Linked DNA regions of Homo sapiens: region 1 is linked to region 2. A link means that fine-mapping ties the variant in region 2 to the expression of a gene that starts in the linked region. Tissue or cell type: whole blood. Region 2 holds a variant in brackets; the other region holds the start of a gene. All regions are shown on one strand. Distances are from middle to middle.

Region 1 (8,085 bases), 29 kb after region 2:
GCTGAGGCTGCAGTAAGCCATGTTTGCACCACTGCACTCCAGACTGGGCAACAAGTGAGACCTTGCCTCAAAACATTTTATTTTATTTTATTTATTTTTTGAGGCCTAGTTTAGCTCTTGTTGTCCAGGCTGGAGTGCAATGGTGCCATCTCGGCTAACTGCAAACTCTGCCTCCCAGGTTTAAGCGATTCTCCTGTCTCAGTCTCCCAAGTAGCTGAGATTACATGCATGCACCACCACACCCAGCTAATTTTGTATTTTTAGTAGAGACAGGGTTTCACCGTGTTGGTCAGGCTGGTCTCCAACTCCTGACCTTGAGTGATCCACCTGCCTCAGCCTCCCAAAGTGCTGGAGTTATAGGGGTGAGCTACTGTGCGTGGCCAAATAAAATTATTTTATTGTTTATATTGAAGGTATACAACATGATGTTATGGAATATGTCGTATCAATAGTAAATAGGTTACTATTGTGAAGCAAATTAACATATCCATCGTCTCACATAGTTACCTATGTTTTTGTGACAACAGTAGCTAAAATCTACTTATTTAGCATGAATCTCATACATAGCGTAAACTTATTACCTATAGCTCTCATATACATTAGCTCTCTAGGCTTGTTCTCATGTACATTAACTCTCTAGACTTGTCCTAAATATCTGCTACTTTGTACCCTCTGATCTACATCTCTGATTCTCCATCACTCCACCCCACAACCTGCTCCAGGTAACCACTGTTTTGTTGTCTATCTCTGTATTAGAGTAAATAGGATTCTTAACTAGCCCTCTAATTTGAGAACCGTATCTCAGCCCTGTGACAACCTGTTCTTCTAGAGTATATCCTGTTCCACAGGATTTATATGAATCGGAAGTTCAGATTTTCGTTTCCAGATGAGTTTAGTGCGAGCTGTCCTCAAGAGGGGAAGAAAACAGAAAAAACAATTTGGAGAGACAGGAAAAATGTATATGTTAAAGTGTTAATACTCTCAGAGAATTTTATGCCATCAAAGCAATCTCTACCAAACAAGGTTATACTATCAAGTTTTAAAAATCTGGTTTCCTAAAGAAAACTACACATGGTTCTATCAAATTACAAAAAATAAGTGATTGCTAAGTGCTGTGTACTGTTCTAAGTACCTTATACAAATTACATCATTTAAACTTCCCAACAACCACATGAAGGTAAGTATATTTAATAGGTGAAGAAAACAAAGGACAGAGAAATTAAGCAAAGTGTGTTTTCAAACCCCGACTGGGGGCTCCAGAGCTCTCACTCTTAACCTAAATGATACTTATTGTCTGTTCTAATAGAAGATAGACAAAAGGAGGCCAGGTGGAGTGACTCACACCTGTAATCCCAGAATTTTGGAAGGCCGAGGCAGGAGGATCACTTGAGGCCAGGAATTGAAGACCAGCTTAGCCAACATGGTGAAACTCCATCTCTACTAAAAATACAAAAATTAGCAGGGGGCAGTGGCACACGCCTGTAATCTCAGCTACTCTGGAGGCTGAGGCAGAAGAACTGCTTGAATCTCAGAGGGAGAGGTTGCAGTGAGCCGAGATCATGTCACTGCACTCCAGCTTGGGTGACAGTGAGAGACTCTGTCTCAAAAACATAAAAAAAAAAAGCACCTGGCACCTCTTTTTGTTTTGCTTATTGTTTTTTTTGTTCTCGTTTGTTCAGAATTTTTTGTCTTCAAGTGTTAGTATCCATCAAAATTACCCCTGATGTTTAAATGCAGATTCCCAGGTCTCAGCACTGACCTAGAGAATTAGAATCCCTGGGGGAAGGGCTCCAGCTGCAGGAATGCTTTTTTTAAAACAAAACAAAACAAAACAAAAAACAGTGCCCTAGATGATTCCAAGGCGGGTGGCTGGTAAGCATACTCTGACAAATATTGTACATGTGGCAGTTTCTTTCCCAAAATTGGCCACAACCATACTTTCCATCACATATATGCTGCTAGTTCCTAGAGTCTTGCAGCTCCCCTTTCAAGAGGTGGTGTCCATGTTCCCTGCCCCTTGAGACAGGGTGAGTTTTGTGGCTGATTGACTGATGGATTATGGTTATTGTGATGCCATTTGACTTCCACGAGGCCATGTGATTTCCACGGCTGGGTCAAAAAAGGCGATTTAGTGTCCATTTCAGCTTGCTAGAACACTTACTCTTGGAGCCCAGCCACCATGCAATGGGGAAGCCCAAGATGCCCCAGGGAGAGGCCCACTTGGAGTGAAACTAACAGCCAGCACCAACTTGCCCGCCTTGTGAACCATCATGGAAGCCAATCTTCTGGTTGCACAGGCTGATGCAGCACAAGCAGAGTGTGCCTTCCTGCCAAGCCCTGCCCAGACTGCAGACCTACACACTCCCAACACAATAGCACTCTGCCTTTCTGCCTACCAGCATGAATTATCCTGGGTCCTCTATAAAATATTCTGAAAAGTATCTTTGTCCAGTTTCATTTACTTTTGCAGATTCTTCTAGTCACAGAACCACCTATTGCAGACTTCTGGTTATTTGAAATTCTCATTATTACCTCTGAACCTTGGCTTCTCATCTAAAACGTTCTGTTAATAATAGAGACTACTTCATCTGTTTCATAATTGAATGATGTATTAAATTTATTAACCATTTAGCATCGTGCCAGCACAAAATATTTCTTATTGTTCTTAGTAGGTTTCTTGTATTCAGAGTTCCAGTTTCTTTAGTGCACTATTTTTTCTCTCTCATAGCTCAATGCCATTTCACAGGCCATTTCCTATGCTTGGCATACTCTTCCCTACAAGGTCAGGTAGGTTCTTACTCATCATTGAGGACTTCACTTATTTAAGAAGGCTTCCCTGAGTTCTCAAGCAGTTAATGCCTCTCTGCTAAAATAGCACCTTGGAGGAACCTGTATTACAGACAGCCCTTAACACATTGGATTGTAACTAATTGTTTACTGGTCTCTCTTCTCCATTGGAATCTAAGTTCCTGGAAGGCACGGTCAGTCTTGTCTTCATTTATTCACCATCTACTGTCTGTTAGTGTGCTAGGAAACACTGTGGTTAAGTAGTTAAGGGCCAGGTCTTGGCGGATCTGCCTGGGGACAAAACAGCTCCTTGGAAAAGGTTAACTATCTAAGCCTCATTTGTAAAATGGAAACAACACCTCCTCACGATTGCTGTGAAGATGAAGTAAAGTGCTTGCAAACAGTCCATCACACAGCAAACCATCCGTCATCAGGATAAAACGCTTCCCCAACAATTCAATTTTCGGGCACCCCCACTCTAATTCTCTCATAGGACCTCGCACTCTATAGGTAATCTCTGCTTTACGGATTACTCTGGGTTCTTTAAACCTCTCCTTGGTCATTCGTCCTGTTAACAATTCTGAGTCTCAACCTTTAGGTCTAGGCGTTCAGAACCATTCTTCCCGCCTCCAACTCGCTCCAAACCCTTTTCCTTCAGCCTACCCTGGGCCTAGGGGCGTGTCAGAGGTCCGATTTATACAATTTAAACATCAAAACTCCCCCAACAGCGTGTGAGTAACTGGAGAGACCCCCAGTCAGAGCTTTGCCACCGAGTTTCGGTCTTGCCCTCCCTTTGAGGAAGGAGCAAGACGATGAGCCCCACCTCAGTCGTTCACTGCAGAGCCAGCAGGGAACGCGCGCAATGCAGGCTGAGCTGAAAGAACGAACGCGTGAGCTGAAAGAACGAACGCGTGAATGAATGAATGGGATACGTCGTAGGCCAGGCCTCTGTTACGTCGTCCACCGGCGCGGGCGTGGCCACGGTTAAGAGAGACGCGCGCGCAGTCGCGCGCGGGTCGTGCCGTACCACCGTCGCGGGCAGGCTCGGCCACGAGCGCCAGAGCCCCGCGCCTCCCCTCGCGGCCTGTCCCAAGTCCCTGCCCCGCAACAGAGCGTCACTTCCGCCATCCCCGGCAGCGGTTGGGGCGGGGCGCACGGGGGAGGGGGCCAGGTCGGAGGGAAGCCCGCCCGTGCCCGAGCCCGCGCCCGAGCAGGGACTACATTTCCCGAGGGGCCTCGGCGGCGGCTGCGGCGACGGGCGCGGCAACGTCCCCCGGAAGTGGAGCCCGGGACTTCCACTCGTGCGTGAGGCGAGAGGAGCCGGAGACGAGACCAGAGGCCGAACTCGGGTTCTGACAAGATGGCCGGGCTGCCCCGCAGGATCATCAAGGTAACCGCCCAGGCCGGCCTCCAGCTCTTCGCTCTGCTCTCGTCGGCTCAGCTGGGCAGGCAGCGCGGCCTCTCGCCTCCTTCGGCCCGCGGCCCGCTCTGGGAGGCCCGAGGCGGCGCGGAGAGGGGTTGGCCGCGGCGGCGAGGGAAGTCGGGTGCTGAGGAGGGGGCGCCGGGGAGACTTCCGGCCGCGGCGGGGCAGCCGGACAGCGGGGACCCGGGGCTTCCAGGCGGCTGCCCGGCGGGCCAGGGAGTGCTGTCCCACGCCCCGGCGGAGGGTGGGGCGGCAAGGCTGGGGGTCTCTGGGCTTGGGCGCGGGCCTCCATAGCTTCTGAGACCACCCCCCCGCCGGAGGCCGCGGGCGCGCGGGAATCGCGGCGGGGCTCGGGCGCCTGGTGGGGATTGTGGCCCGACAAGGTCCCTCGGCAGCCAAGCCCCTCTTCTCCGCCCCGACGGGGCCGCGGAGGTGCGGCAACCGCGGGTGCAGAATGAATGAACCGGGAGGGTCAGGCCGGGCGGGGCCCTGCGCCCCGGGAAGTGGCTCTGGGAGGCCCGCGCGTCCTGCCGCGGTCAGCACATGCTCGCCCCTGGTTGCCGCGGCTGCCTGGGTCCCGGGACGTGGGGGCCCCGCGCCCCGCTGCCCTTGCTTCCGCGATCTCTCTCTTCTGAATACGTTTCCGCTCGTTTATCTCTGCGAAGTGATTTTACTCTGGTTGGCAAACTCTTTCAGAGCTGTTCCGAGGAAATAGTTTTAACACAAGGCTGGGGGAGGGCCGCAGTTATGGGGGATTCTCTTTCTCTCTCCTCTTCTCTCCTCTCCTCTCTTTTTCGTAGATATGAGGCCTCGCTATAGTGCCCAGGCGGCTTCCAAAACTCCTGGCTTCAGAGATCTTCCTACCTTGGCCTCTGTGGGGGATCTCGTGAAATCTTTTGCCCCTCAATTTTGTGCGTTTTAATTATTAATTGGCTGTTTATGAATACTGTGTTTTGACAAGTATGTATGGAACCATGACATTTTCGATTCTTTGATTTTGTAAAGTCTTAAGGAAATATCGACAAGTCTTCAGACGTGAGATATTCCTTGTCATCACAACAACTAAACCTTAAATTTTTGTGTCGGTTTTTATGAAGGAAATTAGTTGCACATTTATGTGACTAAATGCGCCAGTTAAAGTGACTCAATTGCAGCATCATTTTGCTTGATATAACCTGGTGAACGTGTATGTTAATCTTGCTCATTCTTGTGAAATCTGTGGGGAGATGCATACTAAGTGGAAGACCTGTTAGGCTTCGAGGATGATGTACTGTATACTGCTTCATCCAATTGCATTTAAATATATCTGAGATGAGGGAGATGTCACTGACCTAAGGGTGCTGATGTAGAGAAATAAGACGTTTTTGTATGGTAGAAATTCTTAGAAATGAGAGAAGTAGAACAGATTGTCAGGGAGCACTGGAGTCTAATAATGTGAATCTTCATAGTCCGAAATTTGTTGTGTGTGGATTTATCTAGGATTCTGTCCAAGGAGTTTTAATTGTCATATGTATTGGCAGGTCCGTACAACGTGGTTTTAGTTATAATGCAGTCACATGGTCCCCAAAGGTCATGTTTATTGAGGCCCCAGTTGAAAAATGAATAGGGAGTGATAGAGCCATACATCAAATATCCTTGTTTTCGTTGTTACTTAGGTTATTGACTAAGTACATAATGCAAGTTGACATTCATGATAATTCTCTGAAATACATAGTGAACTAAACATTTAACACGCATTTTTCTATTTTTGATTATGAAGATATGCCCAGTAATATGAAAGCCTTGGATGAAAAAATAAATTCTGTGGAACCTTGTTTATAAATTTACAGAAATGGTTTAAGGCAATAAGTTGAAGTCCTCATGATTCAATCCATTTGGCACACAGTAATTTACACTGGGCATTTACATTTTGCTGTTGAAACTAAGACAGTAACTCATACTGTGATATATAATCTTAATTTTACGGTATCTTGTTGACAACATCTATCTAATGAATGACACCTTGATTTGGGTTTTATCTTACTAGTTTAGTGTCATTTATAGCTTAAAAGGATGGTTTTCTCTAATCCTTAAACAGAAGACTAAAAGACTAGATTTTTAAAAGTGTCCATGCTTGTGTTATGTAGGTTGTTCCATAATCAGTGACAATGCTTTAAAAAAAATCAGAATTTATTTTTAAAAGTTGCCTCTTTTCTGTCAATCACTATACAAACTTCTGTGTGGTGGATGGGGGTAACGGTATTGTCCTGAGGCAATAGGGACATGACTTTGTTGATTGGACTGTTAATTTGTTTTATTTCTGGGTGATCTTTGACTTTCTTCTTTTCTTTCTGTTTTCTTTTCTTGAGACTCGTCTCACTCCGCTCCCAGGCTGCAGTGCAGTGGCAGGATCATGGCTTACCACAGCCTTGATCTCCTGGTCTTAGATGATCCTCCCACTTAAGCCTCTTCAATAGCTGGGACTGCAAGGTGCATGCCACCACACCCAGCTAATTTTTGTAGGGACGGGGTTTCGCCATGTTGCCCAGGCTGGTCTCAAACTCTTGACCTCACACAATCCACCCATTTCAGCCTCCCACAGTGCTGGGATCACAGGCGTGAGCCACTGTGCCCCGCCTGACCTTTGACTTTCAAAGGATGAAATTTAGTGTTGATATAACATCAGTGTTAGCATTCTCATCTAATGAAAATGTTAAAATAAGGTGGCTTGATTTGCATGACTGTTAATATGATGCTTTCTAACTTATAATGATCACTATTTACATTTGTAGATTTCTTAACCATTTGATTCTTACAGACATTTTTGTGAACTAGACAATATATTTTGCAGTCTAGAAACTGACTTAAATGACTTTCCTAAGGTAAAGCTGGTAAGAGGCAGAATTTGGATCTTGATTAGTGTAACATTCCCCTGTCTCTTGTTACTGTAAAATGACTAACTACAAATACAAGATGATTTTCTGGACTACTATTCACCCAGTTGCTATCTCATTTAGATTCCTGTATCTAATCCAGTAGCAAATTCTGTAGGTTCTGCTTTCAATATATGTACTAAATCAGACACTTTCCCCCCTGTCTTTCAAACCTCTGTTCACTTCCATCATTTACTGCCTGGCCTCCTGTATTAGCCTACTTTGGAGCAGCAGCTAGTGTTATCTTCTTAAAATATAGACCATGTTACTCCCCTGCTAAAAACTGTAGAGGTTCTCCATCACACTTACATTAGAATCTTGCCTTCCCCCCCACCCCTTAGCTATAAGGCCCTGCATTCATTTGGGATGCCTACTTCTGAGCGCATCTGCACTTCTCTCTCTGGGTCACTCCACTGTAGCCACACTGTTGCTTTGCTGTACCCTGAACAATAAGTGGTTGAGCTTATTCCAGTCACAGGACTTTCCTCCAGTTTGTTGCATTGCTTGCTTTGTCCAGTTGTTCCGTTCTTAGCTCATATGTCATACCCTCTACCTAACCTGTCCCGTATAAACCAGTTTCCCTTTTTCCTCCCCCACAATTTTATCCTCCTATCTCCCTTTCTTCTGTATAAGTGCTTATTACTGTTCGAAGTTATGTTATTTACTGTTTATTTCTCTCTATTCCCCATTAAACCTTCATGAAGTTAGGGACTCTTGGATATCCCGGGCATTGCTCATTCGTGCCTAGACCAATCCTTGGCACATAGTAGATACTGAAATATTAATAGACTAACTGAATAGATGAGCCTTAATCTCAATGAGCAATAATTTGACATTGTTACTCCTTGGTATATTCTGTCTGAACCAATGTCTGAGCTAAAAGTTAAAGCTAGTCTCGTTTTCCACCCATAAGCTCACTTAAAAAGGACATCAATCTTTTACATTATTTCTTTTTTGTGTGCC
Region 2 (8,105 bases):
GTTGCCGTGAGACAAGATCGTGCCATTGCACTCCAGCCTGGGCGAGAGTGAGACTTCATCTCAAAAAAAAAAAGGTCAAACACTCTTCTTCCATGAAATCCTTTTTACTCTCCCTGCCCCCAAGGTTCTTCACAGAAGAAAGAGTTGTCTATCTCAGCTCATTGCAACCTCCGCCTCCCATGTTCAAGCAATTCTCCTACCTCAGTCCCTCGAGTAGCTGAGATTACAGGCGCCCACCATGTCCGGCTAATTTTTGTATTTTTGGTAGAGACAGGGTTTCACTATATTGGCCAGGCTGGTCCTGAACTCCTGACCTTGGGTGATCAGCCCAGCCCGCCTTGGCCTCCCAAAGTGCTGGGATTACCAGTGTGAGCCACTGCACCTGGCCATATTTTATTTTCTTGTTTGACATCACTGGGACCTTCCTAATTATGCATGGATTGGGTTAATATTAAAAGAAGTTTATAAAGCTAGGCATGGTAGCTCACGCCTGTAATCTCAACACTTTGGGAGGCCAACACTGCTCAAGGCCAGGAGTTTGAGACCAGCCTGGGCAACACAGTGAGATATTATCTTTAAAAACTATTTTTAAAAATTAACTGGGCATGGTGGCATGCACCTATAATCCCAGCTACTCAGGTGGCTGAAGCTGAAGGATCACTTGAACCTAGGAGGGTGAGGCTGCAATGAACTATGATTGTGCCACTGAATTCTAGCCTGGGCAACAGAGCAAAATCGTTTCTAAAAAAATTAAAACTGGTGGGGTGTGGTGGCTCACTCCTGTAATCTCAGCGCTTTGCGAGGCCAAGGCAGCAGGATCGCTTGATCCAGCAGTTCAAGACCAGCCTGGGCAACATAGTTGGGTCATATAGTGAGACCCCATCTCTATTAAAAAAAAATTAATAATAAAAAATATAAATTAAAAAAAAACAATTTTGTATCTCTGAATATAAACCAACTAGATGATATACATTTTCACTGAAAGAAACATGACTGGGTGACAGAATTAAGTGTTCTGAAATATGCAGACAAGAAAACTCAAGACAACAGTATTTTAGTTAACAAGAAACTCAGTAAAATTTCTACTCTGTGTTTACACAGACATTTGTTTGTGCCCTCATGACACACTTATCACATTCTGCCTCATATTCTGGGCATTCTTAGTGTTGCTAGATGTCTGTTTCACCTACAAGTCTAAATAAGTTCCTTAAGGCCAGGAACTGTACCTTGTTCATTACTGTGTCCCCTATAGTGCCTACACATTAAAAAGTGATTGCCGAACTGCCTCTCAAATGTTTCTGCATAACTGATGTTTGAAAAATTCATAAGGACTGGGCATGGTGGCTCACGCCTGTAATACCAGAACTTTGGGAGGCTGAGGCAGGTGGATCACTTGAACCCAGGAGTTCAAGACCAGCCTGGGCAACATGGCAAAACTCCATCTCTACAAAGAAATACAAAACATAGGCCAAGCGTAGTGGCTCACGTCTGTAATCCCAGCACTTTGGGAGGCTGAGGTGGGTAGATCACCTGAGGTCAGGAGATCGAGACCAGCCTGATCAACATGGTGGAACCCCATCTCTACTAAAAATACAAAATTAGCCGGGCATGGTGGTACATGCCTATAATCCCAGCTACTTGGGAGGCTGAGGCAGGAAAATCACTTGAATCTGGGAGGCGGAGGTTGCAGTGGGCCAAGATCATGCCATTGCACTCCAGCCTGGGCAACAAGAGTGAAACTCCATCTCAAAAATAAATAAATAAATAAATAACCAGACATGGTAGTACACATCTGTAGTCTTGCTTACTTGGGAGACTGAGATAGCAGGATCACCTGAGCCCAGGGAGGTCGAAGCTGCAGTGGGCCAAGACTGCACCACTGCACTCCAGCCTGGGCAACAGAGTGAGACTTCACCTTGAAAAAAAAATAAGGAAACATTCATTACCTGATATTTTACCAATGGAAGTAATTCTGGATATAGAAGTAGCAGAAGCTCTAAATATATAATTAGGACCAATGCCAAAGTTAACAGCAATTAAGCTCAATGTGCCAAAAGAATTTCAATTAACAATAATTTCTGTAATTTATGAGTTATTCTTGTTACATATATATATTTAATTGCATTTTGAAAGAGCTATGAAAGCTAAAAGTTGTCCCATCTTCAAATGCTCAGTATTTTACCTTGCTACAGAAAAGGAAGTACAGTAGAAAGTATACAGGACAAAGTAAGGTGGGAGATCCAGATTTTGGTCACAGTTTTTGTTTACCAAATATGTGACCCTGGGTGAACTTATGAGGGCCACAGAACTCAAGTTTCTTTACCTTCATAAAGAGGATAATACTACATGGGCTACCAAAATCAAAGCTGTTATAAGGATCAAATGGCTTAACATGCTTTGAAAACTGTGAAGTGTTCTACACTCCCGGGCTGACTGACCATTTGGGAAATTTTAAAATATTCCTTCTAGAATATAAGGAAGGCTTTTTATTTTTGCTCACTGAACTTTCTTCCTTAATCATGATTTCGCTTTGCCTCCAATCTTACTGTCCTTCCCTTTTTTATTAAACATCAATAATAACAGTAATGAAACTTTCTTTAATTTTAATTTTTTATTTTTGAGACAGGGTCTCACTCTGTCTCCCAGGCTGGAGTACAATGGCACAATCACAGCCTCGAACTCCTGGGCTCAAGCAATCTTCCTACCTCAGCCTCCTGAGTAAGCTGGCTCCCTCCTGGGACCACAGGCGTGTACCACCTCGCCCAGCTAATTTTTGTAACTTTTGTAGAAATGAGGTTTCCTATGTTGCCCAGCCTGGTCTCAAACTTCAGAGCCTGCTTCAGCCTGCCAAAGTGCTGGTATTACAGGTGTGAGCCACCCTGCCCAGCCCTTTACTTTCAATAATAGTAGCAACAGGAACTTTGCAGTATAAGGGACTTTTCGGATATAAGAAGTTAGGTCACTGAGTATTAGGATAACTGATAATGGAATGATTTTCTAGGGTAACCTAATTCTTAGTTAACTAGATATTTTGAGAGTTAACTCTAAACCATTCAGATTACTTGAACAAACACTGATAGATCTCCTATCATGAATGAGAGGCCCCAGGGACACCAAAATGAATTAGATCCAGTACAAACTTAGTGGGAAATCCAGTGGGGAAAAAGATATATAAATAATTTTCAATTATTCAGGGACACATTAACTGGTTTTCTGATGGGCCTGTGTGAGGACTAATTGTTTCAAAACATAGTCTATGTAAAAACTGATTGGATGTGACTTCTCATTAGCCTAGGAGCTGGGTTCCTGCAAGGCAAAGAGGAATCTAAGAAGTAAGAGTAAGGGTCTTTCTCCCAATTCTCAACAACAAAAATGCTCCTAGATAATCAAAAGCTGATTGCAGTTTTGTTGTGACTTATTTTGGTTTATATCCAAAGTCTCTTAAGCAATGTCCTGTTCTATTTACTGAATTCTAAGTTGATTTTACTTTGAATATAATGTAATAAATGTTTCTATGTTTAGGGCCCTAAAAAATGGGAGAGTGGGGCAAGCAAGGAAGCAGGGATGGAAAGCTTCCTATAAGAGCAGGATTTGGTGGCCAGGTGCGGTGGCTCATGCCTATAATCCCAGCACTCTCGGAGGCTGAGGTGGGCAGATCACTTGAGGTCAGGAGTTTGAGACCAGTTTTGGCCAACATGGTGAAACCCCTCCCCTGCTAAAAATACAAAAATTAGGCCAGG[C/T]GCAATGGCTCACACCTGTAATCTCAGCACTTCGGGAGGCCAAGGCAGGAGGATCATTTAAGGTTGGGAGTTCGAGACCAGCCTGGCCAACATGGTGAAACTTTACCTCTACTAAAAATACAAATATTAACCAGGCCTGGTGGTAGGTGCCTATAATCCCAGCTACTCGGGAGGCTGAGGCAGGAGAATCACTTGAACCTGGGAGGCAGAAGTTGCAGTGTGCCAAGATCATGCCTCTGCACTCCAGCCTGGGAGCAAGATCCAGTCTCAAAAAATAAAATAAAATAAAATAGAGTAGGATCTGGCAAACTTTTGAGCATTCTATTCAACAAAGGTGTTTACTGAGTAAAATATTTTCCTCGTCTCAAGCATAACAAATTGCCTATTTATTACTTTACTTATACTCCATTCTTCAAATAGCTCTTTTCTCCCTAATTCAATAAGCAAACTTTCAATTACAAATGGTGGTAAATAGGAAATAAGAAAGAAGAGACAAAGGTCAAGGTCAAGCAGAGTTGTATTTAAAAAGTCAGCTGCACTTGCATGTTTATCAGAGCACTATTCACAATAGCGAAGACATGGAAACAAGCCCATCAATGGTGGACTGGAAGAATATGTGGTGTATATGCATACCATGGATTATTACACAGACATTAAAACAAATAAAATCATGTCCTTTACAGCAACACAGATGCAGCTGGAGGCCATTATCCTAAGTGAATTAATGCAAAAACAGCCAAATACTACATGTTCTAACTTACAAGTAGGAGGTAAACATTGGGTACATATGGACACAAAGATGGGAACAATAAACACTGGGGACTCAAAACAGAATGGAGGGATGGAGGGAAGAGTTGAAAAACTACCTATTGGGTACTATGTTCACTATTTGGGTGACGGGTTCAGTTGAAGCCCAAACCTCAGTATATGTAATACATCCACGTAACAAACCTGCACATGTACGCCCGAATCTAAAATAAAAAATAAAAATAAAAAGTTGGCTCACATAGTTTAATATAAAAAGGCAAACCTACTGTTGCCTTCTATACATGTCTACTTTAGAAATGGAAAGCTTCCTATAAGAGCTGTTTATAAGAGCTATAAACTCTGTTTACAGACAGGAAAAGGAAAAAGAAAGCACAGTTGGCTGAGAAAAAAGACTTTAATACTCTATTTACTTATTTGGGTCCATGCTTTGACTGTCAAACATGTATTAACAAGCTTTCGAGAAAATACTAACTATATACAGTTCTTTAGAAAAGAAAGGCAGAAATTACATTTCATTTTTTTAAAAATGGCTAGGTACATAGAAAAAACACAATGACAATCCACCAAAATATTAACAATGATTATCTTTGGAAGATGGGACTGTGAATTTACCCTTTATTCGCACATTTTAAGAAATACTAAAAAAGTAATCACGCCACTGCACTCCAGCCTGGGCGACAGAGCCAGACTCCGTTAAAAAAAAAAAAAAGAGAGAAATACTAAAAAAGTAATACATGTAATCGAACAAGAGAAAGTTACCCTTGACCAGTCCCTTACTCCTGCCCTCAGCCAAATCCCAAGAGTGGGCTACACAGATAACCACTGTTTGGTCCAGACCTTTTACCTCTGCATTTATGCATATGCACACATGCATATGATGGATCATCTTTTAAACATACAAATAAGATCATATGATAGATATATATAGATGTGGTTCTGACATGCTTTTTTTGTTTCTATTTGGAGATCTTTCCATGTCAGTAACAGCTACATGACAGTCACAGTTCAGATGTACCATAATTTATCCATTCCCCTCCCCAACCCACATTTTTTTTTAGAGGTGGGGGTCTTGCTATGTTGCCCAGGCTGGTCTCAAACCCCTGGCCTCAAGCAATCCTCCCACCTCAGCCTCCCAAAGTGCTGGGATTACAGGCATGAGACACCACATCTGACCTATCCATTCCCCTTCTGACTGACATTTAGGTTTTCTCCCACTTTCCATTGCTGCAAACACTCCTGCAAATTACAGGCATATACAATAACTAAATGCTTTAAATTTTCTTAATTCTTAAAAGTTTAAAAGTTTTTAAACATTAAAAAAAATTTCACTTACTTTGGACTGGAAATAAATGTTTCAAGATAGTTCTCTTTGACATCACCCATTTTACTGCAGCTACAGCCATGGTGTTTCAAGATGCTTATCAAGTGGTATGAAAAAAGATGTTCTGAAGAGAAACTGCTTTTAGAATCTGCTTCTAAGCATACCAATTTCTACTCCTGCTGAAGAGATAAAGAAAAATCAGTGCTACCTATGGTAAATTTAAGTTATATTAAACACCACAAGAACAAGGTAAGAATCACTGCCTAGAAGTCAACTGAAGCAATGCTTTTAAACAACTTGGCAATTCCACATGATTGAACAACAGGACGAAGAGCGACATGGACAGAATATAAGATCAGAACCACTGGAACTATGTCCATTACTATTTATCTTAGATACAAACTTCTCTGCAGGACCCAGTGCAGCTCCTTCCACTTAATGAATACTCAGTAAATGTGTAATTACTCTTGAAACAGTCACTCACAAATGGTACACAGAGTATTCATTCTTTTAATGCTAGTGTGGCTGTGTACACCCTCCAAGGTTCCATACACAAGATACTACATCATTTACAGTACTATCCTGTTTCTGATTAAATGAAATAGTTGTCTGCCCTGAGCCATTAATAATAATAATAATAATAAAGAAATATCAAACAAGGCCTATCCTTAGCCTATTACTCAATTGGAGGAACTCATAAATGCCCTCAAGTCCCAGATAAAATTTCACCATCTTATATGTGTACAAAGTCTTTAACTTTCCAACGTACTTTCACCACCATTTCATTTTGCTCTCGTATTAATCATGTGAGGTATCTTTATTCTGATTCATGAAGAAACTAAAGTACAAAATTTAAACGTCTTGCTTCCAAGGACTTTAGAGTCAGTCACTGCCAAATTGGGAAACTTTAAACAAGTCATTAACTAAACGATCCTCAGTTTCTCCAATGACAAAATGGGGAAAACCACAATCTTCATGGCCTGTTGTGAATAAATGACAAATAACCATTGTTAAATCTTGTTTTTAATAGTCTTCAATGAGTATCCGTGCCCTTCCCCCCAATAGTGATAAAAGAGAATTAGGACACAGGCCCTCTTATTTGCTAGTCTAAACCACTCACACTGATACCTTGCACTGCCAGTACATTAACACCGTTAACCCTGAGCTCATAGGTGTGCTTTTTAGTTTACAACCCACTTTCATATACAATATGTGCTCTGACTTTCACAAGTGTGTGAAGCAGCATCTCCATTTCAGATTAAGAACAAAGGCTCAGAGAGGTCAATCGATTACTTGCTCAGTATATCGCTGCTTAATACATGCGTGGGACGTAAACCCATGACTTCTGACCACGAATAAAACATCTTGGGGGAAATTAGGTCCCCTCTGTCCGAAGCCCAGAGAAAAGCACGCCCTGCTGGGAGTCAGATTATTCACCCCAGGAAGATCATTTCAGAGATCAAGTCCCTCAGCCCGGAATTCAACCCCAAAACAAAAGCTACAGAGCCTCTGAGGGTCAGAGGTTTGAGGAACAGGCTACCAAGAGCACCAGAACTCTTCGACCTAAAGGAGTCCCTAGAGCCACAAGCTGCATCACCTCCCCACGGGCGTCCGCCAGGGAACAAAGGGGGCGCTATAAGAAACGCGCAGCCACATGCCGGCTCTTCTGCAGGAAGGACAAAGGCTGGGGATGCAGGCAACCTCGCCCTGCCGGGAACGACAGGCGGGAGACCTCTACAACTGCCGACCAACACTGTGGGACTGCCCAGTTTCGAGGAAGTCCTCGACAGGAGGAGTAGAGGGAAGCGGTTACCTTGACGGCTTCTCACCACGAACCCGCCATCTTGTTTCAATCCTGGTCCCACGAAACAGCGCTGCGCGCGCCGTCCCAGCCCGCGGGGCATTCTGGGAAATGTAGTCTCCGCGGGAAAGCGGCCCGGGTGCAGAGAGAAAGGGAGGATTGTTGCTATGGACTTTTACCTTTAGTTGGGGAAGCGTGGCCGCAGTGTTACTAAGGTGCCCAGAAAAACAAAATCACTGCCCCAAACACATACCCTTAGAAAGTAACAAGCTTTTTTTTTTTTTTTTTTTTGTGAGGCAGTCTCATTCTGTCACCCAGACTGGAGTGCAATGGCTCCCTCACGGCTCACTGCAGCCTCTACCTCCTGGGCCCAAGAGAGCCTCCCACCTCAGCCTCCTGAGTAGCTGGTACTACAGGCGCACACCACCACACCCAGCTAATTTTTTAATATTTTTGTAGAGACGAGGTCTCGGTA

What was found. PIP is the estimated chance that this variant, and not a neighbour inherited with it, causes the effect.
Region 1: UBE2N starts here. The variant in region 2 is fine-mapped to the expression of UBE2N in whole blood (TOPMed, PIP 0.99).

The regions. Positions count from the first base shown.
Region 1 is chr12:93,437,947-93,446,031 of GRCh38, reverse strand. UBE2N (ubiquitin conjugating enzyme E2 N) reads left to right here and starts at 4,085. Exons shown (of 4, transcript NM_003348.4): 1 at 4,085-4,177. The coding sequence starts at 4,148. RefSeq lists silencers at 3,680-4,139, 4,220-4,429, 4,580-4,719, 4,750-4,869 and an enhancer at 3,550-4,187.
Region 2 is chr12:93,467,092-93,475,196 of GRCh38, reverse strand. It overlaps MRPL42 (mitochondrial ribosomal protein L42), which reads right to left and starts at 7,683. Exons shown (of 6, transcript NM_014050.4): 1 at 7,643-7,683; 2 at 5,842-6,005. The coding sequence starts at 5,911. RefSeq lists enhancers at 7,462-7,731, 7,792-7,851. The variant C/T (reference allele first, on the strand shown) is at 3,741.